2 separate regions of the Homo sapiens genome follow, and region 1 is reported to be linked to region 2. The links are microRNA targets in miRTarBase. Many come from high-throughput screens and were not tested one by one. Region 2 holds a microRNA gene; the other region holds the end of a gene's coding sequence.

Region 1 (16,253 bases), not on the chromosome of region 2:
CAAAAATCAGCCGGGTGTGGTGGCACATACCTGTAGTCTCAACTACTCGGGAGTCTGAGGCAGAAGATTTCTTGAGCCCAGGAGTTCGAGTCTGCAGTGAGCTATGATCGTGTCACTGCACTCCAGCCTGGGTGACAGAGTGAAACCCTGTCTCAAAAATAAAAAAGTCCGAGTGCGGTGGCTCAGGCCTGTAATCCCAACATTTTGGGGGGCCAAGCCAGGAGGATTGGTTGAGCCCATTAGTTCAAGACCAGCCTGGGCAACACAGCAAGACCATATCTCTACAAAAAATAAATAGGTGTGATGGCTCATGCCTGTAATCCTAGTACTTTGGGAGGCCGAGGCAGGCAGATCACTTGAGGTCAGGAGTTTGAAACCAGCCTGGCCAACATGGCAAAACCTTGTCTCTACTAAAAATACAAAAAGTTAGCCAGGCATGGTGGCAAGCACCTCTAATCTCAGCTACTCAGGAGGCTGAGGCAGTAGAATTGCTTGAACCCGGGAGGCAGAGGTTGCAGTGAGCCGAGATCATGCCACTGCACTCCAGCCTGGGCGACAGAGTGAGACCCTGTCTCTAAAAATAAGTAAATAACTAATTAAAAAGTTAGCCAGCTGTGGTGGTGAGCACCTGTACTCCTAACTACTCAAGAGGCTGAGATGGGAGAATTGATCAAGCCTAGGAGTTTGAGGCTGCAGTGAACTATGATCACAACACTGTACTCCAACCTGGGTAATGGAGTGAGGCCCTGCCTCAAAAACACAAAAACAAAACAAAAAAACTTTTATAACATGTACCTAACAAAGATGCAGAGTTAAATTTTATTTGCCAGTTTGTAAAAGCCTTTGATACTCATTTTAAGGGCACTTAGTAATTACAATGCCATTATGTAATTAACTCTATAGAGAACATTACTTTCAAATAATGGATGGTCAGACATTAAGACAGCCCCAGAGAGCCCCTACAGCTATCCTTTATCCCGTTTTTTGTTTGTTTTTTGGAGACAGCATCTCCGTCTCCTAGGCTGGAGTGCAGTGGTGTGATCATGCCTCACTACAGCCTGTACCTCCTGGGCTCAGGTGCTCCTCCCACCTCAGCCTCCTGAGTAACTGGGACCACAGGTGCGCACCCCCTCCACCCAGCTAATTTTTGTATTTTGTTGTAGAGATAGGGTTTCACTATGTTGCCCAGACTGGTCTCGAATTCCTGCAGTCACATGATCCATCTGCCTTCGCCTTCCAAAGTGTTGGGATTACAGGCCTGAGCCACTGTGCCCAGTCTTTTTATGCCACATTTTAAAAGGTTTGCTTATTAATAAGCTTACTGTTAATGAAATTTAGTTCAAAGTTTAAAAGTAGAATGCAGCCAGGCATGGTGGCTTACGCCTATAATCCCAGCACTTTGGGACGCCAAGGTGGGTAGATCATTTGAGGTCAGGAGTTCAAGACCAGCTTGGCCAACATGGTGAGACCCTGTCTCTACTAAAACTACGAAAAATTAGCCGGGCATGGTGGCACGCGCCTATAATCCCAACTACTTGGGAGGCTGTGGTAGGAGGATCACTTGAACCCAGGAGACAGAGGTTGCAGTGAGTTGAGATCGAGATTGTGCCACTGCACTCCAGCCTGGGCACAGAGTGAGATTCCGTCTCAAAAAAAAAAAAAAAAAAAAAAGTAGAAAGCAAGAAAGTGTCTCTGTACAGGTAGGCATGAAATGAATCCTTCTCTTCCTCCCCTTTACTCCTTTAACCCCTTCTCCTGCAATGTCTTGAAGTAAATTACTGTCATTACAGAAGAGCAATGCACTGCATCCCCCCAAAACCTTTCTATATGCTTTTGCTACCCCGTTAACAGAAGAATATACAGAACTGTCTTAGGCGAAAGTATGTACAGTAGTCCCTCTCTTATCCACTGTTTCGCATTCTGTGGTTTGTGTTACTCATGGTCAACTGAGGTCCCAAAATATTAAACAGAAAATTCCAGAAATAAACAATGTATAAGTTTTAAACTGCATGCCATTCTGAGTAGTGTGATGAAATCTTGCACCATCCCACTTTGTCCTGCTCTGTCCCGCTCCGTCTTGCCTGGGAGGTGAATCGTCCCTTTGTCCAGCATATGCATGCTGTATACACTCCCCACTTGACAGTCATTTGGTAACTGTCTTGGTTACCAGATGGACAGATCATGAGAAGAGTGAGTACAGTGCAATAAGGTCTTGAGAGAGACTACATGCATATACATATATATATATAAAATTATTTTTCGTTTTTTTTTAAAGACAGGGTCTTGCTCTGTTGCCCAGGCTGCAGTGCAGTGGCATGATTACGGCTCACTGCAGCCTCAACCCCTTGGGCTCAAGCAATCCTCCCATCTCAGCTTCCCAGGTAGCCGGGACCACAGGTGTGTGCCACCCCACTCAGCTAATTTTTTTTATTTTTTGTAGAGACAAGGTCTCCATATGTTGCCCAGGCTAGTCTTGAATTCCTGGGCTCAAGCGATCCTCCTTACCTCAGCCTCTGAGTGCTGGGATTACAGGTATGAGCTAACACACCTGGCCATCTTTTGTTTTGTAAGAGATGGGGTCTCTGTTACCCAGGCTGGATTTGAACTCCTGGGCTCAAGCCATCCTCCTGCTCAGCCTTCCAAGTAGCTGGAGCTATAGGTGCACACCACCATGCCCAGCTTTCACATAACTTTCTTATATTGTAATAATTGTTCTATTATTGTTGTTAATCTTACTGTGCCTAATTTATAAACTTTATCATAGGTATGTATGTATAGGAAAAAACATTCTCTTTCTCTCTCTATATATAGGATTTGGTACTATCCTCAGTTTCAGATATCCCCAGTTTCAGATATCCACTGGGGGTCTTAGAACTTATCCCCCAAGAATAGGGAGGTCTACTATATATATGCATGTAGGGGTGGGAGGTCAGGTGCAATGAAGAAAGTAGAAATCTTTTTCCTTTAAATATAGAGACGGGGTCTCACTATGTTCCCCAGGCTGGTCTCAAACTCCTGGGCTCAAGCAATCCTCTCACCTCAGCCTCCCAAAGTGCAAGAATTACAGGCATGAGCTACCCTGCCCGGCCAAAGTCTATTTTTGGTATATTAAGATACTGTCCCAGCCTATGGAATGATCCAATAGTTCATTCTTCTGTGACACTCCAGCCTCTAAAATAGGACATAAATGCATTTTTTTTCTTGAGACAGTCTCGCTCGGTTGTCCAGGCTGGAATACAGTGGCATGATCTCAGCTCACTGCAACCTCTGCCTCCCAGGTTTAAGCAATTCTCCTGCCTCAGCTTCCCGAGCAGCTGGGATTATAGGCGTGTGCCACCACACTGGACTAATTTTTGTATTTTTAGTAGAGATGGGGTTTCATCATGTTGGCCAGGCTGGTCTCAAAACCCTGACCTCAAGTGATTCGCCCGCCTTGGCTTCCCAAACTGCTGGGATTACAGGCGTGAGCCACCACGCCTGGCCAAATGCACGTTTCAGAGTTATCATTCAGCACTGTTCCGTTTGGTTTGTCTGTGTATTGTGGGGGGTAGGCAGTGGAGCTTTTTTTTATCCTGTTCTCAAAATCCACTTGCAATATCAAGGTTTATGTCTATAAAAATGCAGTCAGTCAATAGTGGACTCCAAACCTGAGTTGTTTTTGGACTCGTTCAGGAAGGCAAAAGGAAGGCTTCTGACCTGTGGGAACAGTGAGTGGTCTGTGTGTACAGATACACCTTTGTATCAAGTAGCCAAGGTCTGGGGAAAGCCCAGCGTAGACCGAAGTGCTATGGAGGGTCTTTCTCAGACACATTAGCTGGGAAACACTGTCCTAGTTGGTAGGTACTTCATCAGTTGCACATTCAGGTAACTGCTGAAACTGGTACACCAGAGTAGCTAGGGAGTGAACAAAATTAATTTTTGGGTCACACCAAAATAGTAGTTGAATTACATCTCGGCACAGATTTTAGAACCTTGAGAGAATAACAGTTAAAAAAAATAGTTGGTAGGTATCATAGGAAACAATATTTAAGAACTTACAGTTGAGGTGGAGACCCCGGTAGATGTCTCAGAACACTTGACTCATGCATATGTGTTCTTACAGGCTGTGTCGCCATATAACTTCACTAAGATGCTTTAAGTGACTTTTCATACTTATATTTGGCCAGCCTTACCTTGTTCTTGGACTTTTTCTGAGGAAGACTCCTAATATTTCAAAAACAGCTATGATTTTATATAAACTTTTTGTTTTTATTTTTTCGGAGACAGAGTTTCGCTCTTGTTGCCCAGGCTGGAGTGCAATGGCACAATCTCGGCTCACTGCAACCACTGCCTCCTGGGTTCAAGCAATTCTCCTGCTTCAGCCTCCAGAGTAGCTGGGATTACAGGCATGTGCCACCATGCCCGGCTAATTTTTATATTTTTAGTTGAGACAGGGTTTCACCATGTTGGTCAGGCTGGTCTCAAACCCCTGATCTCAGGTGATCCACCCTGCTCGGCCTCCCAGAGTGCTGCGATTACAGATGTGAGCCACCGTGCCCTGCCCTATTTTATGTAAAGTTATCAATTTATCTGCTGTAGCTACCTGCCAGACCAGGGTTCAGCAAGCTTTTTCTGTAAAAGGCCAAATAGTAAATATTTTAGGCTTTGTGGACCATATGGTCTCTGCTAACTACTCAATTCTGCCATTGAAGTGCAAAAGCAACCATGTAAATGAATGTACGTGGCTGTGTTTATTTGTGGACACTGAAATTTAAATTTCATAATTTTCACATAAAATATTATTCTTTTGATTTTTTTTCCCCAACAATTAAAAAATTTTAAAGCCATGCTTAGCCATGAGCCATTCAAAAACAGGCAGCAGGCCATAGTTCGCTAACCCTGGTGCCAGGCTAGTCTTGGTAAAAGCTGACTACTGATAGACATCTTAGAGACTTGTAATTATAGCAGAAGATATCTCTCATAGGCAGAGAATTTGCCTTTTAAACAGGTCGATACTGGGCAATTTCAAACATGCTTTTGGTTCCTTAAAAAACCATTTGAGCCAGGTGTGGTGATACACATCTGTAATCCCAGCTACTCCAGAAGCTGTGGTGGCAGGACTGCTTGAACCTAGGAGTTTGAGACCAGCCTGGGTAACACAGCAAGAGCCTGTCTTTAAGAGAAAAAAAAAAAAAAAAAAAAGCTATTTGGCTAAATCAGGCCTAGTGTCTTTCCTTTCACCTATAAGCACAGATATGGTAATAACTGGAATTTGGAAAATCTACTTTGGAATTTGGAAATACAGTCCCTTCTTCAAAACCAGAAAACAGCGGTATCCCCGTGTTTTGACACACAACATTTAAAAATCATTCTTGGATCTCACTTACATCCTTACTTATATATCCTTATAGATACAATAGTTAAGTTGTGGATCTGGTGTTTTTTTAAAAAAATAACACAAGTAACTGGTCAGTTCTAGCTGAGGCATACTTTAAAACTGAACCCAACCATTGGATCACAAGTGTGTGAATATATATTTCTTCTAGCCTTTCAATTTTAATACCCGTATTTACTATAGAAAAACACATTTCTTTATGTAGTAATTTCAGAAAACTTTGGATGATTCAAAATGACAAGTACCTGCTAAAGCTCTTAAGTCTGATGACTGCATTGAAATAGTCACATGACACAGTTCTGTACGCTGCAAACATTTTAATGATTATTGTTGAGCATACATTTTGGAAATTTTTTACTTCAAACGGCAACAAGTTAAATAAATGTTTATAATATACAAAGAAAATACAACCGAAAGTAAAACTCGCTGTAAGTGTGCCTTGCACTTAGACCAGGTTTTCCCCCCTTAATACATCTTTATTTTTGAGCTGCAAACACACTTAAGACTTTGATCTTCATAGTATGGCATTTAGGAAATAAAAATATACTCCCACCTTAAAGAAATAAAAAGTTTGGTGCATGATTATATGCCAAACAAAGAGAGAACACTAGAATACTCTTGATAGTGCAGGCATCATTAAAAAGGAAAAGAAAAAGCTTGAGATGCTCATTAATTCTCTATGTTTTAAGGAAGCAGGATTTTTGACCAAGTAGCTTAAAAGCCAGCAAAACAGGGATCAGTGACAGCAACTGTAGTGTATGGAGTATGAAATGACAAACTTTACACAAATACACTGTTAGAAATTTACCAGTGAACACTGAAGATCTGAGAAGCTGCTCTTTGGAACAGTCAAGTGGGACCACCTTATTCCAGTCACATAAGCCCTTGTAAAGTAACACAGTGTTCTGTGCTATATACTTGCTGGCTGGGTAGTTACAGGATTTGTTTTGTCATTAGCAGCTAAAAAACTTATTCCACATGTTCTTAAAGCCTTAATGGTGGAAAAAAAGGCAAGTGTCATTAGCATGGTGGATCATATACTTCTCTGCACACAAACACAAGAGGCTTCACTAGTATTTTTAAAGTCTCTGATGTCTCCCATTGCACTTCAAAGCTCAATTGAGATGAAAGCCTTTCTCCATTGTAGCAGCTAGCAGGCGCTCTCTCATGATCTCCTCGGAAGAATATTCAGGCAACTTAAGGTAATGCACACATGTATTGACTGATGGATAGCTTGCATCAGTAGCATCAACCTACAACAAGAAAGCAAACACAACAGAAGACCATGAGTTTAAATACTTCTTTCTTTCAAAAGTAAAGTAACTAAATTTCATTTGGATTCCCCATTAGCCAGAGAGCTTGTACCTTGCGTACAACCGTGAGCCTGGGATGCAGGTTAGCCAGTCCACCTGGGGGTAGAGTTGAACAACCAGTGGTAAACTGCAAGAATGCTTTCCTTTCATCAGAAGACATGCCACATAAAACCCTCACAAACCTCAGGAAACCAGGGCTAAAAGAACAAAAATATAGTTATATTGAGTTGACTGCAGATTTAAATGAAAATCACTACCACTATTTTCTAAGGCAGCAACAAGCCCCCTAAAAAACAATATCCTCACACCAGAACAACAACACATCTAGAGACTCTTGGTTAAGTATGAAATGGGCTAATATAAGCTACTTTAAAAATATCCCGGGCCAGGTGTGGTGGCTCATACCTGTAATCCCAGCACCTTGGGAGGCTGAGGCGGGTGGATCATCTGAGGTCAAGAGTTCAACAGCAGCCTGACAAACATGGTGAAACCCCATCTCTACTAAAAATACAAAATTAGCTGGGCGTGGTGGCGCACGCCTGTAATCCCAGCTACTTGGGAGGCTAAGGCAGGAGAATCGCTTGAACCTGGGAGATAGAGGTTTCAGTGAGCTGAGATTGTGCCATTGCATTCCAGCCTGGACAATAAGAGCGAAACTCCATCTCAAAAATAAAAATAAAAATCCCTCAAAGACTGTCTTGAACTTACAAATTGTAAGAACTAAAAAATACTGACAGTGTATGGGGTCCATCTATTCTGCAACAAAGTCAGCAAATCATAAAAACACAGGATGCACTTGCAAAATCATTTCAAATATGGATAAATATACCAAAGGGGATCTGAAATAATTTTTATTCCAGCAAAATAATTATCTTGTGATAAATTTATGTAATGAAATAGTAAATGAACGACATGCCACAACATGGATAAATTTCATAATCATAATATTACTCAAACCAGACCACAAAGAAAACAGACTACATGATTTCATATATTAAAAGTTCAAAAGCAAGCAAAACTGATCAACATATGGTGATTAGATTAATAGAAAAGAATATGGTGGGAAGGGGGATTTTTGAAGTTGTTTCATATTCTGGATACCAATTATACAGGTGTGTTCATTTTGACAAAATCCTCTAAACTGTATATATGATGTGTGTACTTATCTGTTATATTCAATAAAAAGTTTAATATAAACGTAGTATATAGCCCAACAGCTTACAATTTACCAAATTTTAAAAATGAACAATTAAAACACAATGAGGAAAGGAATCAACATCAGCCATGATGTCAGTTGTCTTTTTTTTTTTTTTTTTTTTGAGACAGAGTTTCACTCTTGTTGCCCAGGCTGGAGTGCAATGGCATGATCTTGGCTCACTGCAACCTCCACCTCTTGGGTTCAAGTGATTCTCCTGTCTCAGCCTCCCAAGTAGCTGGGATTACAGGCGTCTGCCACCACGCCCAGGTAATTTTTGTATTTTTAGTAGAAACGAGGTTTCACCGTGTTGGCCAGGCTGGTCTCAAACTCCTGACCTCAAGTGATCCGCCCGCCTTAGCCTCCCAAAGTGCTGGGATTACAGGTGTGAGCCACCGCGCCCGGCCTGCTGTCAGTTGTCTTTTTGTATCCTCCCAGCCTTATCAGTGGATATGCATTCTGGTAACTGTGAGACACCACTGCTTTCTCACTTACTTTATGATACTCACTGAATTAAAGTTCTTTAGAGAATCTGTCATTTGATTTGGGGAATATAAATAATTTTGTTGATCTTGGAAAATAGTATCACATACCTGTCACGTGTATAACCCAGCTTAGGTTCAGTGTAATTGATAATATCCTCTGCTGCCCAGGATGGTGACTGGTTTCCACAAAGAATCATTTGGACTTCTTCATGGCTGAAGGAACTTAATTTCTCCATTGGAAAAACTTTATTAAACCCATCTACATCGTACATGTAACGGAAACACAAAAAACAAACATACAACTCAGTTTCCAAGTTACGATTCCAAAATACCAAATTTCAAACCAAAATACCCATTATCAGAATCAATCTAAGTATCTATCAAGGGATGAATGTGTAAAGAAAATGTGGTATATGTACACAATGGAATACTATGCAACCATAAAAAAGAATGGGCTGGGCACGGTGGCTCACGCCTGTAATCCCAGCACTTTGGGAGGCCGAGGCAGGCAGATCATGAGGTCAGGAGATTGAGACCATCCTGGCTAACACAGTGAAACCCCGTCTCTACTAAATATACAAAAAATTAGCCGGGCGTGGTGGCGGCTGCCTGTAGTCCCAGCTACTCGGGAGGCTGAGGCAGGAGAATGGCGTGAATCCAGGAGGCGGAGCTTGCAGTGAGCCGAGATGGCACCACTGCACTCCAGCCTGGGACTCCAGCCTGAGACTCCGTCTCAAAAAAAAAAAAGAATGAAATCTTTTCATTTGTAGGAACATGGGTGGAACTGGAGGTCATTATATTAAGTGAAAAAAGCCAAGCACAGAAAGACAAGTATCACATGTTCCCACTCATATGTGGGAACTTAAAAAGTTGATCTTGGCCGGACAAGGTGGCTCACACCTGTAATCTCAGCACTTTGGGAGGCCGAGGTGGGCAGATCACCTGAGGGTGGGAGTTCGAGACCAGCCTGACCAACATGGGGAAACCCCATCTCCATTAAAAATACAAAATTAGCCGGGTGTGGTGGTGCATGCCTATAATCCCAGCTACTCGGGAGGCTGAAGCAGGAAAATCGCCTGAACCCAGGAGGTGGAGGTTGCAGTGAGCCGAGTTCGTGCCATCACACTCCAGCCTGGGAAACAAGAGCAAAAACTCCGTCTCAAAAAAACAAAAACAACAAAGTTGATCTCATAAAGGTAAAGAAAAGAATGGTATCAGAGGCTGGGAATGTTGCATGTGGGGGTGGATGAAGAGAGGTAGTTTAATGGGTACAAACTTACAATTAAATAAAAGGAGTAAGTTCTAATGTTTTCTAGCATAGTAGGGTGACTATAGTTAACAATAATATATATTTCAAAGAAGCTAGAAGAGAATAATTTGAATGTTCCCAACACATAGAAATGATAAATGTCCAAGATGATGGATGTCCTAAAGACTGATTTTATCATTACACATTCTGTGTATCAAAATGCCCCATAAACATGTACATATATTATGCAACAATAAAAAAATACCCATTACCGATGAAATGGACAGAAGATGAATATTCAACATTCATAAATGTTTGAATAAACAAGCATAAATTAAGACAGCTTGAAATTAAAACTGTATTTTAAATTAGAAATCCCTGCTTAACATCACAAACGTGAACAGAGAGAGAACATTCAGTTGCTATGGTCAGTATGCAAATTCTTATTACTACTCAGTCTGGAGTTCACCAGCTCTTTCTGTCATACAAGTCAGGCAAAACTGTGTTCTCATTTTCAAAAGTAATTTACCTTGTAATATACTTTGTTCCCATCATGATTCTTTCATGTTAATTCATCCTGATCAAGTAATCTAGAATGTATGCAACCTATGTCCACTTTCTTTCTTTCTTTGTTGAGGCAAGGTCTCCCTCTGTTGCCCAGGCTGGAGTGCAGTGGCACAAACATGGCTCACTGCAGCCTCAGCCTCCCAGGCTCAAACTATTCTCCCACTTCAGCCTTGCAGGTAGCTGGGACCACAGGCACGTGCCACCACATCTAGCTAATTTTTTAAAAAATGTTTTGTAGAGATGGGGTCTTGCCATGTTGCCCAGGCTGGTCTTGGAACTCCTGGGCTCAAGCGATCCTCCTGCTTCAGCCTCCCAAAGTGCTGAGATTACAAGTGTGAGCCACCACCACACCCGCACACCCGACCACCATCAATTCTTTTTTTTTTTTTTTTTTTTGTGCAGCGGAGTTTTGCTCATCGCCCAGGCTGGAGTGCAATGGTGTGATCTCGGCTCACCGCAACCTCACCTCCCGGGTTCAAGCAATTCCCCTGCCTCAGTCTCCCCAGTAGCTGGGATTACAGGTATGCGCCACCATGCCCAGCTAATTTTGCATTTTTAGTAGAGACAGGGTTTCTCTATGTTGGTCAGGCTGGTCTCGAACTCCCAACCTCAGGTGATCCTCCCGCCTCAGCCTCCCAAAGTGCTGGGATTACAGGTGTGAGCCACCGTGCCCAGCCGACCACCAGCAATTCTTGACCATAATTTCAACTGTCTCAAAGTGAAAGGAGAGCAATTATGCTAAAAATCCTTTAAAATTACCTCTAAAGGCTTCCATTTGTTTCTGAATACCCGTATGCATACAAAAGTCAAACATCAAATCCACATATTCTTCTGCATTATCCATTGTTATCATCTGCAAAAGAAAATTTGTCAGTATCTAGGAATATTTCAGGAGTGTCTAGTACAACTGGCCTTGCTAAGAGGATATGTCAGAACTTACAACTATATTAAAAGCAAACTTTTTACCTCATCTTCACCACTTGGCTTGAGATCCACAGCTGTAAAACCATATATTCTTGAGGAAGGGCAAAACTGGAAATTTAAACTGGGAGGACAAAAAAGATTAAATTAACTGACATGCAGCTACTACTAATGGTGTTTAATTTTTATAACATTACTATCATCTGCCATCAGTGGGTACAAGAGAAAAAATTAAATAAAATAACATGGCTATCAAAACCATAAATCCCACCCCTCTCCTCCTCCAACAAAATCAGTACACCAGCTTAGAAGTAAGTTGAGGACTTTTTAAATGCAATATTCTATGGACAAAATCTACTAGGCCAACTGTTATCAAATCTGTCTGGCTTTGCAAAGATTGCATGAAACCACCTTTCTATATTTTACTTCTAACTTATGGCACAAAATTAATGAACTAAAAATTTTGCAATGAATTATGACAGCAACATGTTTGTAAGACTTTTAGGAAGAAACTGTTGCTTTACTGAAGTCAATCACGCTGTGTACAAAAATATATATTAAAAAAAACCTTGAATATATAACCATTTATCAAACACAGTTTACCAACATTATCAGCAAACATTAAAAAAAAAAGGCCTTGCAGTTAACCTAAAATCACAGCTGAAGATATGATAATTACCTGTACATAAAGTAACAGAGTTTTATCAAAAGTTCTGCAGCATCTCAACTGCTACAGCCTTTGGTGATAAAGCTGACATACCAACCAATTTTTGAGCTTTGCAAAGTGAATCATATATTAGCAGATGAATTTGTCAAAATATTGTTGGCTCTGGACATTTTACACAGGCATATAAATTCACATTGGCTAAGTCAGGTAATCTTCTAAAGGTTTGATGATTAATAAACTAATATTCTAGTATTCTGAGTGTTGTCTTTATAATATTAAATCAAAGGTTCAAGTCGATCATCAATATTTCCTACAGCATATTACTGTTTTTGACAGACTATTTACTCATATATTGCAAATCAGTGACGACAAAGAAACAAAAGCTTTAAAACTTATTCATGCATTGGATTGAAGAATGTACATATAATGCTTACCCTAAATCCTCTATGCTAAGTGGAGGCCCAGAACCTGATGGATTCTTCAGCACTAGTTCCTGTAATTTTGTGTTCTTCTCATCTTCAGAAAGACCTTTGTTGCTTAAAATTTGGCGCCTCTTGATAGCAAGGTCTTTAATTTCTTTTAAAAATCTGGCTCTGTGTGGGTTTACTAATTCAAAGTCTTCCCAAGTCAAAATTCCATTAAACCAAGCTGGGGGTTTTGGTTTAGGGGGATCAAGAATAAATTCTGATTTTGAATCCTCTTCAAAGCTTCCTACCGAGAGTGAATCATGACCTTCTTCTGTAGAAGCTTCAGACTGACTTTCAGTACAGTGTAAGTCTCTATCACCTCGTGACTCATAAATCAGTTTACTCATATTGCTTTTAATGTCACCCATACACATAAGTTTAAAAAAAGGTTTAGAAATAGGTAAGTCCACAAGTCTATTGTCTTGAATGCATTTGGCCAAGAAAATTCCAAGGAAATGAAACAGTTTCGTGATCCTTTCAAGCTCATCACTATCCTGTGGAAATGGTGCTGTGAACAGTCCACATGACCTCTGCACATAATATCCAGGAGGTTTCAATCCACCTCCAAGATCAACCTAATTTTTTAGAGGGTGAAATGCAAATAAAATTAAACAAAAGTTAATAGAAACTAAGCCTATCATCATCTAAGAAAAAAATCCATAAACATTAAACATCTTCATGAATTTGGCTATCTAAAAGTATATAATTTTATTAAATAGCTTTTGGTGACTAAATTTTATCGCTTTAGAACTATTTTAATTGCATCAAGATTATTCAATAATAAAAGTAGAGTCAGAAACCTGGCTTATGCTCTGAACACATAACCTATTTTTAACACTTTTGAAAGCAGAGTCACAACTCAAGTCACAAAATGAGAAATATTCTTACGTGACGAGATTCATCATCTGGAAAATTATCATCACAAAGCCAAGCTCCCAAGTCAGTTCTCTGGAATTCTGCTGCCACCAGAGCATAAAACTCTAATGTGGGTCCCAAGCCAGTTCCTTCTTCTCCTAAAAATTCAACCTAAAATATGAACAAATAAATTGTGGGTTAAACGTAAAGTTTGGGGTGTTTTTAAAAATAATCTAATTCTTGTCAAAATTTATCATATCTGATCCAGTAATGTACCTTTTTTCAAAATAGCAGTGTATATATATAATAAACAGCACAGAAGTGTTATTTTAATTTTCCTAAAGAGTCCACTTGTTGTACACTATTACATGCTTAAGCACTGTGCCAAGCATCATTCATACATTTACTTCTCACAACAACCCTGCAAAATAATTATTTCCTTTTTACACCAAAGGAAACCAAATCTCAGATAAGGAGGTTAAATCATTTGCTTGAAGAAATGATGGTGAACAGACTTTTGTGTGTCTCTGTGTGACACCAAAGCCTAGACTCTTCCACTTTTTAATTTTTATTTTTTGAGACAGTTTCACTCTTGTCGCCCAGGATGGAGTGCAGTGGCACGATCTCAGCTCACTGCAACCTCTGCCTCCCGGGTTCAGGCGATTTTCCTGCCTCGGCCTCCCAAGTAGGTGGGATTACGGCATGCACCACCATGCCTGGCTAATTCTGTATTTTCAGTAGAGACAGGGTTTTACTATGTTGGTCCGGCTGGTCTCAAACTCTTGACCTCAGGTGATCCACCCACCTCAGCCTCCCAAAGTGCTGGGATTACAGGCATGAGCCACTGCGCCTCGCCTCTTCTGCTTATTTCTGAGTTAAAGACACTTTAAATCATTTTTGCAACAGGAAGAGTATGGACAAAAACCCTTAAAGTGATTGCATAAAGTATAATAAAAACTACAGCATATGGTTAAAAAAAAAGATTATCTATATTAGAAGAATGTAAACAACTGGGCATGGTGGCTCAAGCCTGTAATCCCAGCACTTTGGGAGGCCGAAACGGGTGGATCACTTGAGCCCAGGAGTTTGAGACCAGCCTGGGAAACATAGTGAGAACTTGTCTCTATTAAAAAAAAAAAAAAAGAAGAAGAAGAACATAAGGGTAGGAGGAATACAATGAAAGTCTGTATATAAAGTGAAAGATGTAAAGCCTTGGACATCTTCTAGAGATGTATCATATTTCTTGCAATTAGTTTATGATCCAAAAGTTAAAAACAAACCAGTTGGATTCACCCCTGTGACAGGAGACGTATTTCCACTCTTCCTCATATAGGGAATACTGTGTATATGAAATAAAACCAACAATGTCCACAGTAACATTTCTAAACTAAATATATTAAATGTCATACTACCATTTGCTATAACATGTCTCAACACAGACCAGTGATATAATACCAAGCACAATTCAAGTGAAACAATATTACAAAACCAGGTGCTCCCAAAATATCAAACAGCACAGTTTAATGTAAAAGTAAAAAAGAATCCCTTGTGAGTACTACTATTTTAGTCCAACTTTGTTATGAAATGGGTAGAAGCCCTCAAGCAGAACAAGCACTTTGCCACCTCAAGAGTGGAGATCTTCTTTGTTGCTCATTAATGGCACAAGACCTAACCCCTAAGGAGGTGGACTGACATCCTCTTATGAAAAAGATGCTCTGCCAGAGGAGAAGGCTTCTGCCTACAGAACAGGAAAACCCCTCTTCATGTTTACCTACCACAGTTTTTAATGCAGTGAAGATACACATTGGGCTGGTTCCCTAAGTGTCATTCCTGTTCCCTAAATCTAATTTTATATGAGATTACCTCAAGAACTGATTTCCGATCTGCATGTATTTGCATGACATTCTCAGCCCATTCCATCAGTGACTCGCCACGTGGAACTTTTACTCTTTCATGCTTGAGACGACCAACTCGAAACTCTCCAGGGTCATCTCGCCTAACACTGCTTGTGGTTCTCGTTCGCTCCACAGTGGCTTCACGTCGGTTCTGTAACCATACTATTGCTCTGAAATAGAAAAATATCTATGAGCTGCAGCATACGTTAACAGCTGAATGTACTACTAAACCAGCAACAGAATTCAAAGATTTAAGAAATTAAAAAATAGTATTTTATCAGGTGATTTTTAAAACACAGTAATCTTTTTTTGTTACATAAACTGCTTCCTGTCACAAGTAAAAATATATGAAACTCCTTTTATTATAATCTGCCTTAAGCAAACTGAGAAAGTACTGGGTCTATATTTTGCCTCCTTATTTTAGCAGTTCAATAAAAATAATAATCTGTTGTCCAAGCCCCAACATCATTCAAAAAAAGGAAAAATGTTTCCTATCAGAGAAATTTAGAAATGATTAAGCTATCTTTCAAACTGAAAGCCGCCATCAAAACGGTAATTATAATTTTAAAACAATTTTTCTTTTTTTTTTTTGAGATGGAGTCTTGTTCTGTCACCCAGGCTGGAGTACAGTGGCATTATCTCGGCCCACTGCAACCTCCCTATCCCGGGTTCAAGTGATTCTCCTGCCTCAGCCTCCCCAGTAGCTGGGATTACAGGTGTGTGCCACCACGCCCAGCTAATTTTTGTATTTTTAGTAGAGATGGGGGTTCTGCCATGTTGCCCAGGCTGGTCTTGAATTTCTGGCCTTAACTGATCCACCCGCCTCAGCCTCCCAAAGTGCTATGATTACAGGCATGAGCCGCCACACCCGGCCACATTTTCTTTTTTTTAATAACAATCCATTTATGGTGGGAGGAAGAACCGACAATTAGGAATAAGAAGCTGAAGGTTCTACTCTCATGTGTGCTACTATTTTCTCATGATCTTAGGCAAATCAGCTAAGTACGTGCAGAATCAATTTCCTCATTTATAAAACAAATTATAATCAATGCCAGTTATCACAACATGCCTATAGTTCTATGTATATAAATGCTTTGTAAATGGCATTAAATGGTACAAAAATGTAACTATCAGGGAAGAAAACAAACAGTTTAAATTATAACTTTTTTTTTACAACTATTTTGGAAGAGTACTTAAGGTAAACAATCATTCAACAAAATATTTATTGAGCACCTACAATGAGTCTTGCTCTGTTGCCCAGGCTG
Region 2 (16,253 bases):
GACAGGAAGTTAAATATCGTGGTTGGAGAAGAGATAGTGCCAAGCCTGACTTCTTGGAGGAAGAGCAGTTCTAGTTGAAGACAGAGTTTGAGCTGGGTTGTGTCTGTAGGAGACATCTGAATGTAGAACTGATTTTTTTTCCAAACCTGCTTCCTCTCCGGGGTTCCCCTATTTCTGTTAATGGGATCATCATCACTCAAATTAGAATACTTATAGATTTATTTGATCTTTATCAATTAATTATCTTAAAAGTTTATAGTTCTAAGGTTCAAGTCTTAGTTTAGCCACTTAAATCTTGATCAAGTGTTTCTCTAGGTCTGACTGTCCTCATCTGTAAAATGGCAGAAATCATGTTACTTTAGTGGGATAAGATATGTAAAGTACTTTGCACAGTGCTTAGAACACAGAAAAGATTTCACTAAGTGCTAGCAACTATTTATTATGATAATTATTATTTATTCTTATATCTGATTCATTCCCTTGTCAGGGCGCTCTCTTTTTTTTTTTTTTTTTTTTGAGATGGAGTCTAGTTCTGTCACCCAGGCTGGAGTGCATGGCCTCCCGGGTTCATGCCGTTCTCCTGCCTTAGCCTCCCGAGTAGCTGGGACTACAGGCACCCACCACCACGCCCAGCTAATTTTTTGTATTTTTAGTGGAGACAGGGTTTCACTGTGTTAGCCAGGATGGTCTCGATCTCCTGACCTCATGATCCGCCCACCTCGGCCTCCCAAAGTGCTGGGATTACAGGCGTGAGCCACTGCGCCCGGCCAGTCAGGGCTCTCTTTCAGAGCCTCGTGATCTGGAAGGTAAAATAGCTTCTTTCCTAACTGGTATCTCTGCCTCTACGTTTTCACATGTTTATTTTGTTCTTGACATTTCAGAGTTTTCCTAAAACTGAGATCTGATACACCCCTGCTCCGTTTGTCACAATCTTTGTTTAAAAATCTATTTTCTATTTTTTTTTTTTTTTTAGAGATGGGGTCTTACTGTGTTGCCCTGGCTAGACTCAAACTCCTGGGCTCAGGCAGTTCTCCAGTCTCAGCCTTCTGAGTAGCTGGGACCACAGGTGTGCACCACTGTGCCAAGCTTCCTCACAACCTTCATAGGCTTCCAATTGCAGACTTTTCAAGTTATAAAAACTGTCAAGAGGTAATAGAGCCCAATGTAGAATAAAAGTTGGTGATAGAGGCTATAGCAATGCATTACTACTATGGTGACTCATTGTACATCTAAAGGACCGGAAGTAGCTTTAAAACTTTTTAAGACTATTTACAATTTCACATAGAATTAGCCAGATTTTCCTTTTTTGATTTATTTTTCACCATCAACTTAGGCAAGTATGGTTCAACGTAGAATGAGGGAAAATTAGAAAATTTTTTTTGTTTTGTTTTAAATATGGCAAATTCTGTTTAAAGAAAGTATTCATATCTTTCTAGGGTTTTCCGGCTAGGAAGGATTTCCTCAACATAAACAGAGTTGAGAATAGTTGACAGTTATCTGGAGCAAGATTAGAATAAATAGAAATAACTAGGTACCAAAGAGGGTGTATATCTTTGTTTTCCTAAGCTTTTCTCTCCAACACCAAATGACTAGAGTTGCCTTTCCTTCCTAGCTCAGGGAGTTTCAAAAGAGCAATACCTTCAAGCATCAGAATTGATAGACAGGTGTTACTGTGTTTACCTCTAACTCCCTGTTGCCTGCAAAGTCCAAATAATATCCTAGTGCTTAAGGAGAGAATATAGCCAACCAGAAAAGAGTGTAGGGCTCTGGATTCAGGCTGACCTAGGTTCACATCTTAGCTTTGCCACTTAATAGCAGCTATGTAATCTTGGGAAATATGCATAACCTCCCCAAATCTTAGAAGACAGCATTAGACAAAGTATAGGTGTAAAATAGTTTAGTTCGATTATAGCCATTTAGTAAATTGAGTAAGTGCGAGTGATTATTGTGTGGCAGGTATTCTGGATTGGGGATGGGAAGGATGGGCATAATACCTTAACAAGGATTCCCTCTCTCCTACCCTAGAAAGTCCCTTCTTTAAGAAGTTGACAGCCTGGACAACATAGCAAGACCTTGTCACAATAAAAAATTTAGCTGGGTATGGTGGCACTTGCCTGTTGTCCTACTGGAGAGGGCTGAGGCGGGATGATTGCTTGAGCCTAGGGGTTTGAGATTACAGTGAGCTATGATTGCACTACTGCACTGCAGGCTGGGCAACAGAGCAAGACCCTGTCTCTTAAAAAAAAAAGGTTTAATTAAGGCCCTTCCTGATCTATCCTTCCAACCCTATCTTTAGCCCCCTCACCTCCTTGAACTTTAATCTCCAGTGGTATGCTGTCTCAGGGTTATGTCTTTAAATATAGCCTTCCCACTGCCTTCCCATTTGCCTTTATTCTTTCCACCTGTCAGTGGATTCATCTCCTCTGTGAAGCCTTCATTGTTTCTTTTTGACAGTAAATCACTGTCCTCTCTGTTAAGTAGGCATTTTATGCACATTTTTGTTATTGTGCATATTATAATTATTTATTTGAGTGTGTCTTCCCTACAGGTGAGGGCTTCTGGTCAGATCTTATTTATCATTTCTCCAGCAGCATTAAGCACATAGCAGGTACTCAGTAGAAGTTTGCTGTATGAATAAATCTCACTTCTATACTAAGTCCACATCCAAAGTGCTAGGACTTAAGGAAATGTGAATGGCTGTTAAGTATTTGTACTTAATACATTTGCAGTTTGTTTTACTGGAGTTAACATTCCTCTTGAGTGTTTATCATATTCCAGACATTATGCTAAGACGTGTGCTATATACACTATTTCAGTCAACTCCCACAGCTCCCAGGTCCTCAAAGGAAGAAACTGCAGGGAGAATCAGAACTCAGAAACAGGTCTGCTTGACCCAAAAGTTCTACTTTCGGCTCTACTAAACTGTTGCGCCTGTTCAGTAACTCAATATTGGTTCACAGATTGTACATAACCCATAGTATGTTGATAGTCCTGGAAGTCATTGGCTAATGGGGTTCACCTTCATTTAAGAGATACAGAAGGTACTCGGTTATTTCTTAATATTTTCATTTATAGTTCATCTACAGGAAAACATGTCATTGAAGCTCTTCCATAAGGCAAAGAAGTATTTTGTAATTAATAAGCATAATTTTCAAATCTAGGATTTTTTTTTTTTTTACCACCAGTGTACCATGGAATCTCTCTAGTCATATGTCTGTCAAAACTGTCACAGCCTATTCCCAAATGTATGTAGCTCTCTTTTCAAAGGCTTTAATTCAGTCATATAGTTTCTGTTTTTGTGGAGACTCATGTAGTTTTTATAGGGATCACACAAATGTACCATATTTTAATTTTTCATATGTTTTGTTATAGCTGTTTATAATGATATGAATGAGAGGCATAAATGTTAGTTGAGTTATTCCAGTGCTGAGTTTCAGTGGATTTCTTAATCTCAGCATTATTGACATTTTAGGCCAGGTAATTCTTTGTTTTTGGGGTCTGTTTTGTGCATTGTAAGATGTTTAGCAGCATCCCAGGCCTCTACTCACTATATACCAGTAATCTCACACTTTGTGACAACCAAAAATGTCTCCAGACATTGCTGAGTATCTCCTGGAAGGCAAAATTACCTTCATTTGGGAACCACTGGCTTAAAGGTACTTAGAGCCAACAAAAGTAGAATTAAAAAAAAATTTTTTTTTAAATCTAGTTACCTTTAAAAAAACAACTTTATTTATATATATCCATACCATATTATACAACAACTTCAAGTGTATATTCAATGGCTTTTGGTATATTGATAGAGTTTTGCAGCTATCACCACAATCTAGTTTTAGAACATTTATATGACCTCATAAAGAAACCCTTATTAGCAGTCATTCCCCATTTCTCCTTTCTATCCTCCCCAGCCCTAAGCATATTTGGTTATCTTTTTATGTTTAGGAATATACATCCTGCTTGCTTATTTTAAGTCAGATCATTATGTAAACCAAATCCTATTTTAGAGTGTGTTTATTGAAAGTTATTTGCAATGTTAGGAGACATATTTTTTGAGAGGACCTTAGACATTTTCTTAGGCAGATTCCAAGTTTAATCTGTAAAGGAAGTCAATCTAGGTAGGCTCAGTTAAGAATCATTTTAGTATTATTCAGAACAGAAAAAATCCCACTGCCCCCCATGGCAAGTTTTGTATCATAGAAATCAACAGCTTTTGTTTTTCCTGATCAGTTATATTAGAAAACCTTGTTCCCTAGGTTATATGCACAAAACATAATTAAGAAACACATGTACTTTGAACCTGCTGTATGATTATTATTAAATAGGTCAATTTCAGTTTATTGGTTGGTGAGTTTATTTATAGGTAGATAGATAAATAGTTTTGTTTTTCAAATTTGCGGATCTGTCTTACTTACAGAGTAATGTTACTTACTATTTACTATAAGAAAAAACCTTGCAAATCGTCTTTTCCAAAAGAAGAAATAAGGCACAGTTGGATTATTTTGTGTACACACACGCATCTGTTTTAAATTGTGTTCATTTCTGTCCCTATTCCTAAGCTAACAGCACCTTATTTTAATTACTGTAGCTACCTACATATCTTTATTCTACTATTCTGCTTTTTCAGACTTTTCTTAGCTGATTTTTCACATGTCAAATTAGCAGACTTTCATGGAAAAGTTTCGAATTAAATTTGTGATTGCATTCACTTCCTAGAATAATTTTGGAAGAATTGACACATTTAGTTTAATGATTCTTCCTATCCAAGAACATATATTTCTCTCTTTTGAGGTCTTGTTTTATATCCTTTATTAAATCTTCCTCAAGATCTTGCATATTACTAATTAGATTGATTTCTCAGATATTTGTGGTTATTGTTGCTATTATGAATGGAATTTTTTTTTTTTCTTTTTCAATTGTTTGTTGCTGATATGGTTGGGAACTGTTGCTTTTTTATGTTGCTCTTGTATTTGGCCATCTCGCTGATGTACAGATGTCATATTATAATAATTTGTTGATTTTTCTATAGTTTTCTAAGTAATATAATTATATCTTTTGTAAATCATGACAGTTTCGTTACTTCCTTTTAAGTCTTTATTTCTTATATAGATCTGTTATTTCTTGCCTTACTACATTGGCTTAGACCTTAAGGAAATGTACAGTATTAGAGGTGAGAGCAGTAATCACTTCTATTAGAAACTACAGTGAGATATCCAATTTTTTGTTTATTAAATGATTTTATACATTTTACTGAATTTCTCATGCTCCATGAGATGAAACAGCATTCTCCCATACTTCTGGTGGAAATGTAAATGAATGCAGCTCTTTATATATACTCCTGTAATTTTATAATCTAGATAGTCTTACAAATGTTTCATGTCCTTTGATTTAGTAATCTCACTTCTAGGACTATCCCTTGGAAATAATAAACAATATTTTAGTTCAAGTTGCTCATTACTTTATGTTACTTATAATAAGTATTTGGAAATAAATATCTAACAGTACAGTAATGGCTTTGTAAATTATGGTATATGATGAAATATTGCACAACTATTAAAATAATTTGTAATATTAATAACTTAGAAGTACTTATATTACTAAATAAGTAAAAGAGGATAATACAGAATTTTTATATAGTAAAGTTGTATCAGCATCAAAATACATTGAACAAAGATTAAAACAGAACTTAGATCATCACATCAAAATGATAATAGTGGTAATCTATGGGTAATTACTTTCTGGATGATTTCATTTCCTCATTCATAGTTTTCTATGGTGAGCATGCTTTGTTCTTAAAATCAGAAGAAAAAGAAACTTAAAGTGTATGTGTTTGTAATACTAAACTATTTATTTTCATCAAAATAGGTAGAAAGGGAGAAATCTTAGCCTATTCCCTAAATGGCAAGTTTAGTTATAATTTTTTTTTTTTTTTTTTTGAGACGGAGTCTTGCTCTGTCGCCCAGGCTGGAGTGCAGTGGTGAGATCTCCACTCACTGCAACCTCCGCCTCCCGGATCCAAGTGATTCTCTTGCCTCAGCCTACCAAGTAGCTGGGACTACAGGTGCCCGCCACCACACCCGGCTAATTTTTTTGTATTTTTAGTAGAGACAAGATTTCACCATATTGGCCAGGCTAGGACTAGTTGGTCTCAAACTCCTGACCTTGTGATCCACCTACCTCGGCCTCCCAAAGTGCTGCAATTACAGTCATGAGCCACCATGCTGGGCCTATAATTTTTTAGAGTTAATATTTTTATAATACTCTTTTCAAAAAAAAAACACCTTGCTGAATGTAGATAGCAAATGTCATAGGAGAAATCTGATACCTGAGAGAGTAGTACATAGTTTCAGAACCAAGGTTGAGAGTTATGCTCTGGGATCTGCTTCTAAATGATCTGACTGCCATATCAGTGAGTCAGGGAGGAAGTGTAGCAGATATCCACTTGATTTGGTTTCTTACTGTCTTGTCACCCATGTGCATGTGTATTGTAAACTAGCTGTCATTTAGCAGCCCTGTGATATACTGCTGGCCGAGTTTCGTAAGAAAGCTTCTATGTTTGTATAGATTTTAGATTATCATTCGCTTTATTTAAGAAACATTCATTAAGTACTTTCAGTGTGTCAGGAACCTTGGTAGCCAAAGGACAAATGACATAAAAACCACACAGATGGCCTCTTTCTTGAGCAGCTTTTGTTGGAAATAATTTATGACTAATATTATGATGGAGTGAGATGGTGTCTTACTAGTAAGACCAGAAATACTTAAATTCTAATTCAACCAATTCTTGAGATCCCTTAGGGAGCTAGGTATACCAAAATTCAAGTTAGAATTTGTTGGCTTAGGCATAGGCCCCTGCCTCACAATCCAGAGAACTAGGTTATTCTATATGGAATATGCCTTTTTCCTTTACCAGCTAAACCTGACTTTCCTTTCTACGTGTTAGCTTAAATTCAAGTCGTCTCAAATTTTACTACTCTACTAAGGCAAAAAACTACTGGTACTAAAAGAAAATGAGCAAGAAATGTCCAACAAGCTAGATCTTGTTGAATAGTTAGCAATTCAGATGTCTTACTACCTACCAACAAACTGTCCCCCTCCATTACCTTGGCCCAGTTTCTATATTTGGAAAAAAAAAAAAAAAAAAAAGCAGAACAAAAAAGGAATAAGAAAGATGGCTTGGCTGCTCCAAGCAGCCTTGGAATGTTTTACCTCTGGTAATGTGGAAGAAAAATAAAAGAACGGCCATCCTCAGTCTGTTTCACCATAATGTGTAGTTACAATACCAAGAAATTTTGAGTTATTAAAAAAATTATTTTACAAAGCAGTTTCATTGGTAAGAAGGATTAAAGACTAAAATCTGTAAGATGAATAGACTTTTGTCAGACCAAGGGAGATGGAGGTTTGGGGTGGGAGAATGTGTTGGATTCCAGCTATATTATTCAAATGCTCGGAGACACAGAACATTAGAGAAGACAGGAGTTCACTGTAGGTGATGGTGAGAGTGGGCATGGAGCAGGAGTGCCAAGAGATGAAGTTATAAAACTAAGCAGGAGTTAGATCATGAAGAACTTTATGTACTATGCTAAGAAATACTGACCTTATTGTGAATGTATGGAGGGCCCATTGGCTTTTTGGGGAGCTAGGTCTGCAATATGAATATTAGAAGGGGCAAAACTGGTGATAAGGGCTTGCACTAGTGTACAAGCAATAGGTATGGTGAAAATGGAGACATTTGAGATATTTTGAAGAGGTAGACTTAACAGGGACTTATGATCAACATAGATAATGTATATGGTGGAAAGAGAATAGCTTTTTGAGTTGGATAAGTGTGGGTTCAAATCCCAGCTCTGTCACTTTTCCATTTTAGGATCTTGGATGTTTTACATACCCCTGAGAACCTTAGTTTTCTCATCTTAATTGGGACAGTAAGCTGGGTGCCATGGCTTGTGCCTATAGTCCCAGCTACTTGGGAGGCTGAGGCAGGAGGATCACTTGAGGTCAGGAGTTTGAGTGTAGCGTGGGCAACATAGTGAGACATAATCTCTAAAAGAATTTTAAAAATTAACTAGGTGTGGTGGCATGCATCTGTAGTCCCAACTACTCAGGAGGCTGAGGCAGGAGGATTGCTTGAGTCCAAGAGTTAGAGGCTACAGTAAGCCATGATTGTGCCGCTGTACTCTAGCCTGGGCAAGAGAGCAAGACTCCATTTATTAAAAATAAAAATTTGGGACAGTAATATTTAGCCCATAGGGATGTGAAACAATATATGGAAAACATCCAGTAAAGTGCCTTACCACATAGTAGATATAAAACAATAGTTGCTCTTGTTGTCAGGGTGAAGGAGATAGAGAGGAATCAAGAATGACTTCCAAATTTTCTATTTGAATGGTGAAAAAGAGCTATATTAGGAAAGTGGGCTAAGCTATCTGGTTCTTAGATTGCTTGTGAGGATTCAGGTGGAAGTGTTCACTGGCAGTTGATAGTAAGAGTATGACACTTCTGAGTGGAAGGCACAGATCTGTGAGTTAATCAGCTTACACATAGCAGTAAAAGTTATGAAAGTAGATGAGGTCCCCCAAGAAGAGAGTTAGAATGAGAAGTCAGAACCCTGGAGAGTGGCCTAGGAAGAGTAGAGGGTGTATTTTGTTTGATTGTTTGTTTGTTTGTTTGTTTTTGAGAGGGACTTTCTCTGTCACCCAGGCTGAAGTTGAAGTACAGTGGTGCCATCACGGCTCACTGAAGTCTTGATCCCCAGGGCTCAAGTGATCCTCTCACCTCAGCACCTCATTCTCATGAGTAGCCAGGACTACAGGCACATGCCACCATGCCTGGCTAATTTTTTAATTTTTTTAAGAGATGGCATCTCACTGCGTTGCCTAGGTTGGTCTTGAACTCCTGGGCTCAAGCAGTCCTCCTGCCTCGGCCTCCCAAAGTGCGGGGATTACAGGTGTGAGCCACTGCACCTGGCTGATAAATCTTTTCAGAAAGTGACATAAATTTAGATTTAAGTGCTGATTTTAAAAAATTGCTAAGGCCATGCATGGTGGTGCATGCCTGTAATCTCAGCTACTTGGGAGACCAAGGCAGGAGAATTGCTTGAGCCCTGGAGTTCAAGACTGGTCTGAACAGCAGAGTGAGACCCCCATCTCTTAAAAAAAAAGAAAAAAAAAAGCAACCAAACAAAAAGGAGCTAACAGAGAAGAAGGGGTTTCTGAAATGTAGGAAGTTAGCTCACAGAGTCAAAATTGAATAAGGATGGAGTGGCGAGTGGTGTCAAATGCAGCAGAGCAGTCCTGTAATGGTCACTGAAAAAATGCACAATAGATTTGGTCATTAGAAGGAAGACTGTGAACCAGGAGCTGAGTAAGTCCTTGTGGTAGAGTGCTTTGAATGCCAGACTTTGGTCGGTGGAAGAATGATTAAATGTTATTGAGCACGAAAGTGAGATGATCAGAACACTACTTTTTTATTTTTCTGGCAGCAGTGTGAAGGATGAGAAAGGAGGGAAAGCTCAATTTAGGTTGGTAGAGGCACAGATTGAACAAGGGCTTGGATCAAGATGATAATCTTGCTTGGAAACAGGTTAGCGTAAGAGCTGTTAGGCAGTAGTGTCTTCAAAATTTGGTCATCACTGGATGTAATGAGTAAAGAAGTAGCCTAAAAGATGACATTTTAAGGTTTTCAGTGTGGATAACAAGGAGAATAGGGGTAGCATTTACTGAAACAGGGACATTAGCAGAAGCAAGACTGGAAGATGAAATCATTTTTTATTTTTAAACTTTGATTTATTAAGCATATGCTATTGAGTGGCACTGTTATTGAGTTATTAGGCACTGTTACGGTACTAGAGATACAGCAGTGAACATAATAGGCAAGATCCCTACTTTCATGGCACTTTACCTTCAGAAGTGAGGTGAAGACCAAATTATAAAAGGACAAAGTAATTTAAGACAAATAAGACAAAACTAGGTGATGATACAGTGATATATTGAGGGGAGCTTTTAGATGGGATGGTCAGGAATGGCATTTCTAAAGAGGAGAGATTTGAACTCAGACCAGAATATTACAAAGGAATCAACTATGCAAAGATCTGGGTGCAAAGGCATCCCCACTTAGACTGGAGAGTATATGCAAAGTCCCTAAGAAGGAAATGAGCTTGATTTATTTGAGGGCCAGAAGAGAGGCCAGTATATCAGGTGCAGAGTGAGCAAGGGAGAGACTAATAGAGATGAGCTCTGAGAAGTCAATAGAATTAAACTTAAGTGGGGCCTCGGAGGTCTTGCTCTGGAGTTTGGTGGCTTACTGATGGCAGTGGAAATAAAGCAGTATGTTGAACTTAGCTGTCTGTGAAACATCTAGATGAAGTCAATTAACGGGCTTCAATATACAAACTCAAATATAATTTGCCTCTGTTATTCATTGAAATAACTTTCCAAGTTGTTTAGGCATTGAACAAAGAAATGCTCACAATATGGAGGCTTGAGGAGTGTGTCAAGGACATGGTCAGGGGACCAGAGGGATCAGGAATCTCTAGCAGTTCTTCCCCACCCCTCACCCCCAGACTTAGCTTTGACTTGAAACTCATCTAGCAGTTCTTTACCAAAATAAAGGTCATCTTAAATATTATTGCGACCTTTAAAGTAATGACTGTTATATAAATGTTATGAGAAAAGTAGTCAGAGAATCACGGCCAAAAATACCTGTGTCTTCAGGGGATGTAAAGGGTACTTACCAACTTAAAATACCTGCAGCTCCATAGGGACCATGCTGTAGATTTTGTATAGTGCTTGTTCAGACAGTACTCTCATTTCTAGAAATGCATTTTTTGCAGTAAACAAAGTGTGTGTATCACTGTGCTTCTTGGTACACAAGTAGTTTGAATAGATTTTGTAGCCAAGGTCATCCTTAAGCCATCTAGTTTTACTGAATACATGTTCAAAAACACTGAAACAAAATAATTATACCTTTTGTTTATGTATTGCTTTATAATTTATATAGCCTTTACCCCTGGAAAATCAACTTGATCCTCAGGAACAGCTCTTTAAAGTAGATAGGGAGCAGAAATTTTATGGAAGTCAGTGTTACTATTTTAGAGTTGAGGAAACTGAGGATCTCTGAGTGCACAGTCATAAATTTACAACTCTCACTTCACTTGCATTGCTTTACTTACCACACCATGCTAATTCAAAGGTGTACAAAAATGTAAATTTTAGTAGAGGGTTTGTATCCTTACTAAAACAGTGACAAAATAAATTTTTTAATGTGCATGTTAGTTATGGGTGCTACCAGAAGGATTAACGGTGCTGTGGATACGCAGAGGAGAGTGAGATTGACTTTGGCTGGGAGAGTCAGAGGTTTAATTTTGTTTAGAAAATGTGTACTGTTTTCTTACTTGGTACTTTTTATTGCCTCTTCTTGGTTGCCCCATACATTTAAGGTACTACATGTGCAGCTTTGAAATAACCTCCCCCACCCTTTTTTTGTTTTTTGTTTTTTGTTTTTTTTTTTGAGACAGAGTCTCACTCTTGACGCCCAGGCTGGAGTGCAGTGGCACAATTTCGGCTCACTGAAACCTCTGCCTCCCGGGTTCAAGCGATTCTGCTGCCTCAGCTTCCCAAGTAGCTGGGACTACAGGTGTGTGCTACCACACCTGGCTAATTTTTTGTATTTTTAATAGAGATGGGGTTTCACCGTGTTAGCTAGGATGGTCTCCATCTCCTGACCTCGTGTTCCACCTGCCTCAGCCTCCAAAAGTGCTGGGATTACAGGCCTGAGCCACCACGCCTGGCCTGAAAGAAACCCTTTTATTTTGTATGCAGGACCGGTATGTTTGTTTCTGCTAGCATATTTTATTGTTATTTTGAGACAGAGTCTCGCTCTGTCGCCCAGGCTGCACAGTCTCAGCTCACTGCAAGCTCTGCCTCCCAGGTTCATGCCATTCTCCTTCCTAAGCCTCCTGAGTAGCGAGTAGCTGGGACTACAGGCGCCCGCCACCACGCCCGGCTAATTTTTTGTATTTTTAGTAGAGGCTGGGTTTCACCATGTTAGCCAGGATGGTCTCGATCTCCTGACCTTGTGATCTGACATCTCAGCCTCCCAAAGTGACATATTTTATTCTTGTATTGCCACTGAACTCAGCAGAGATGAATTGGTAACAGTAGCTACCATGTAATGAGCAATTCCGTGCCAGCACTCTGGTAGAGGATTTGTAAATTTACTTAATACTTACATCAACTTTCTGAGGTAGAAACATTCTTTCATAAATTGGTATTTTCTTTTCAGTCCATTCACATACTTGTTATTCCCACACCTGATGGAGAGAATGTAGAACTGTGTGAAAGAAAAGATAATTATAAGGCATTGTAGGCCGGGCACGGTGGCTCACACCTGTAATTCCAGCACTTTGGGAGGCCAAAGCAGGTGAATCACCTGAGGTCAGGAGTTTGAGACCAGCCTGGCAAACATGGCAAAACCCTGTCTCTACTAAAAATACAAAAAAAATTAGCTGGGCATGGTGGCACACGCCTGTCATCCCAGCTACTAGGGAGGCTGAAGAAGAAGAATTGCTTGAACCCAGGAGGTGGAGGTTGCAGTGAGCCGAGATCGTGCTACTGCACTCCAGCCTGGGCGACAGAGCAAGACTCCATCTCAAAAAAAAAAAAAAAAAAAAAAAGCATTGTATTTCAGGATAATGTTAAGCCATGCCAATAGATTTTTTTATTGTTGTTTTATTGTGCATTATTTATTATATTTTTCCCAAAGTGAAGAAGCCAAGCTGGTATATATACTAATCTGAGTGATGAAGTCTAAGCTATATAACATGAATGAATAAAGTAATAATATCTTAAATGTCTTTTTATGATTACAGTGACAGTATGTAGTAATCTTGGGTGGTTTTGCATTTCAAAAACCACTTTATGTATACACTAAAAAAAGTCGAATCAATAAAGAGATGTTTATTTAAACTATTTAGGAATGCAAGATGTCCATAAAACTTAATCCTTTGTTTAGTGACTTTTCACTCCTGTATTTTCTTGTTATGATAAGATATGTTGCTTACCGTGGAAATGGTAATAAAGCTTTGTGTTTATATAACATCTTTTAGGATCTCAAAATGCTTTTAGACTATCTCATGTATCCTCATAGTATTTTAGTGAGTAGGTAAGTGGCAAGTATTATCTTCATTTTACAGATGGAGAGAGAAATTAAGCCACAAAGTGAGTTAAATGATGTATGTATATAGTTCCGTTATCTAGATACATAGGCAACCTGAGCCACTAAAGTAAGAATACTATATTTTAGAAGGATTGACATAGTATAAGCCATTAACCCCTTAGTTTTTGTACTTTACACAGATTGTTAGAAAAAATTTATTATGCACATAGATTTTTTTTTTTAATCCTTTCTTTAGGTGTAGAAAACATTACAATACTTCTTTTTTTTCTTCCTTTTTAGGTCAGCAGCAAGGACAAGATGGAGTAAAAGTCCAGCAAGCTACTATAGCTCCTGTAACTGTAGCAGTTGGAGGAATTGCTAATGCCACGATAGGTGCTGTTAGTCCTGACCAACTCACACAAGTGCATTTGCAGCAAGGCCAGCAGACTTCTGATCAAGAGGTACAACCTGGCAAGAGGCTTCGAAGAGTTGCCTGTTCCTGTCCTAATTGTAGGGAAGGAGAAGGAAGGTAAATGCTGTATTTTTCAACTGTGTCTATTTGGAAGGCATAAAACAGCAGTTAAAACCAAGTAATTGGCTGGGAATGATGGTCACTAGAACTTCATTACCTTTGTAGCCTAGAAGTTGATATATAATATTAGAAAGGGAATTAAGTTGGGCTATTTTAGGAATGAAATTTGAGCGGTCCTCCGCCTTGTTCCTTACACTTTTAAAAAATATTTTTTCTTTCTTCCCCACCCCTCCCCCACCCCAACAAGATGGAGTGTCACTCTGCTGCCTAGGCTGGAGTGCAGTGGTGCAATCTCAGCTCACTGCAATCTCTGCCTCCCGGGTTCAAGCGATTCTCCTGCCTCAGCCTTCCGAGTAGCTGGGATTAAGTACAGGTGCCCGCCACCACACCCGGCTAGTTTTTGTATTTTTAGTAGAGGCGGGGTTTCACCATGTGGGCCAGGCTGGTCTCGAACTCCTGACCTCAGGTGATCCACCCACCTCAGCCCCCCAAGTGCTGGGATTACAGGTGTGAGCCCCCTCGCCCAGCCCATTTTTTTTCTTTTTCATAAAATATTTACGTAACTTTATTGATATAAAACTCATTCGTACACCATACAGTTCACGAATTTAAAGTGTACAATTCAGTGGTTTTTAATATATTCAGAGCTGTGTAGACATGACTACAATCAATTTTAGAGTGTTTTCATCATCCCCAGAATAAATTCTGTATCTTTTTTAAGCATCACCCCCTTATCCCAATCCTTCCATCCTAGACAACTAATTTCTGTCTTTATAGATTTGCCTTTTCTGGACAATTCATATAAATGGAATCATGGTCTTTTGTGACTGGTTTCTTTTAGCATAATGTTTTCAAGGTTCAACCATATTACAGTATGATCAATACTTCATTCCTTTTTAGGGACAAATAATATTCCACTCTATGGATATACAATATTTTTGTTTATCCTGTCAATTGAAGGACATTTGGTTTTATCCACCCACTGGCCGTTATGAATAATACTGCAGTAAACATTTGTGTAGAACTGTTTGTGTGGGCATATGTTTTCATTTCTCTTGTATTTATATGAAATTACCTAGAAATGGATTTTTGGGTCATATTGTAATTCTATGTTTAACCATTTGAGGAACTTACCGACTGTTTTCCAAAGTGGCTGTACCATTTAACATTTCCATCAATAGGGTATGAAGGTTCCAGTCTCTCTAGATCATTGCCAGTACTTGTCATTATCTGACTTTATGATTAAAGCTATCCTAGTGAAGTCATATGTCACTGCAGTTTTGTTTTTACTGATACTAATGATATTGAGCATCTTTTCTTGTTCTTATTGGCCATGTTTGTATCTTTGGAGAAATGTTTATTTGGATCTTTTGCCCATTTTAAATTATATTATTTATTTTTCATTATGGAATTGTCTCTTTATATATTCTACATACAAATTCCTTATCAGATATACAATTTGAAAATATTGTCTCCTGGCTGGGCGCAGTGGCTCACGCCTGTAATCCCAGCACTTCGGGAGGCCAAGGCAGGTGGATCACCTGAGGTCAGGAGTTCAAGACCAGCCTGACCGGCATGGAGAAACCTTGTCTCACTGAAAATACAAAATTAGCCAAGCATGGTAGCGCATGCTTGTAATCCCAGCAACTCGGGAGGCTGAGGGAGGAGAATTGCTTGAACCCAGGAGGCGGAGGTTGCAGTGAGCCGAGATCGCGCCACTGCACTCCAGCCTGGGTGAAAGAGCGAAACTCCATCTCAAAAAAAAAAAAAGAAAGAAAAAAGAAAAATATTGTCTCCCATTGTGTGAATTGTCTGTATACTTTCTTGATAGTGCCTTTGCACCAAAGTTTTAATTTTGAAGTCTAGAGTTTTCTATTTTCCTTTATTGCTTCTGCTTTTGGTATTGTATCTAAGAATTCATTGCCAAATCCGAAGTCATTAAGATTCCTAGTTGTTTTTTTTTTTTAAGATAATTTTATAGTTTTTACTCTTACATTTAGGTCTGTGATTAATTTGGGGTTAATTTTTACGTATGGTGTTAGGTAAGGGTTCATCAAGCACCAGTTGTTGAAAAGACTGTCCTTTCTCCGTTGAATGTTCTTGGCACCCATGTCAAAAATTAGTTGACCATAGAACATGGATTTATTTCTGGACTTTCAGTTGTATTCCATTGATCTATATGACTATCTTTATGTCAGTACCACACTATCTTGAGTACTTTGGATTTGTAATAACTTTTGAAATCGAGAAATGTGAGTCCTGCAGCTTTGTTATTCTTCAAAATTGTACTGACTCTTTCGGGACACTTGCAATTCCATGTGAATTTTAGAATCAGTTTGTCAGTTTCTATAAAGAAACCAGATGGTATTCTGATGGAAATTGCATTGAATCTGTAGATCACTTTGGGGACGGTTGCCAGCTTAACAATATTACATCTTTTGGTCTATGCACATGGGAAGTATTTCTGGTTGTTTAATCTTTAACTTCTTTCATCAATGTTTTATAGTTTTCAGAGTATACATTTTGTACTTTTGTTAAATTCCAATTTTATTTCTGATGCTATTATAAG

What was found. The annotated mature microRNA hsa-miR-1183 reads CACUGUAGGUGAUGGUGAGAGUGGGCA and lies in region 2 at 7,479-7,505, shown strand. An mRNA with a match to its seed (bases 2 to 7 or 8) in the 3' UTR can be bound and repressed. Matches are read on the target gene's strand: a 7mer-m8 pairs with bases 2 to 8, a 7mer-A1 pairs with bases 2 to 7 and ends in A, and an 8mer does both.
Region 1: miRTarBase lists HECTD1 as a target of hsa-miR-1183. Seed matches in the 3' UTR shown: 7mer-m8 at 6,123-6,129.

Annotation. Positions count from the first base shown.
Region 1 is chr14:31,094,441-31,110,693 of GRCh38, forward strand. It overlaps HECTD1 (HECT domain E3 ubiquitin protein ligase 1), which reads right to left. Exons shown (of 43, transcript NM_015382.4): 36 at 14,957-15,158; 37 at 13,127-13,264; 38 at 12,206-12,813; 39 at 11,150-11,228; 40 at 10,943-11,036; 41 at 8,476-8,626; 42 at 6,740-6,884; 43 at 5,677-6,627. The coding sequence ends at 6,490. AP4S1 (adaptor related protein complex 4 subunit sigma 1) reads left to right here. Exons shown (of 6, transcript NM_001128126.3): 6 at 1-2,010. Among named protein-coding and RNA genes, the nearest start is that of STRN3, 76 kb to the left of the region's middle.
Region 2 is chr7:21,463,627-21,479,879 of GRCh38, forward strand. MIR1183 (microRNA 1183) reads left to right here and starts at 7,432; the gene lies at 7,432-7,520. SP4 (Sp4 transcription factor) reads left to right here. Exons shown (of 6, transcript NM_003112.5): 4 at 13,453-13,681.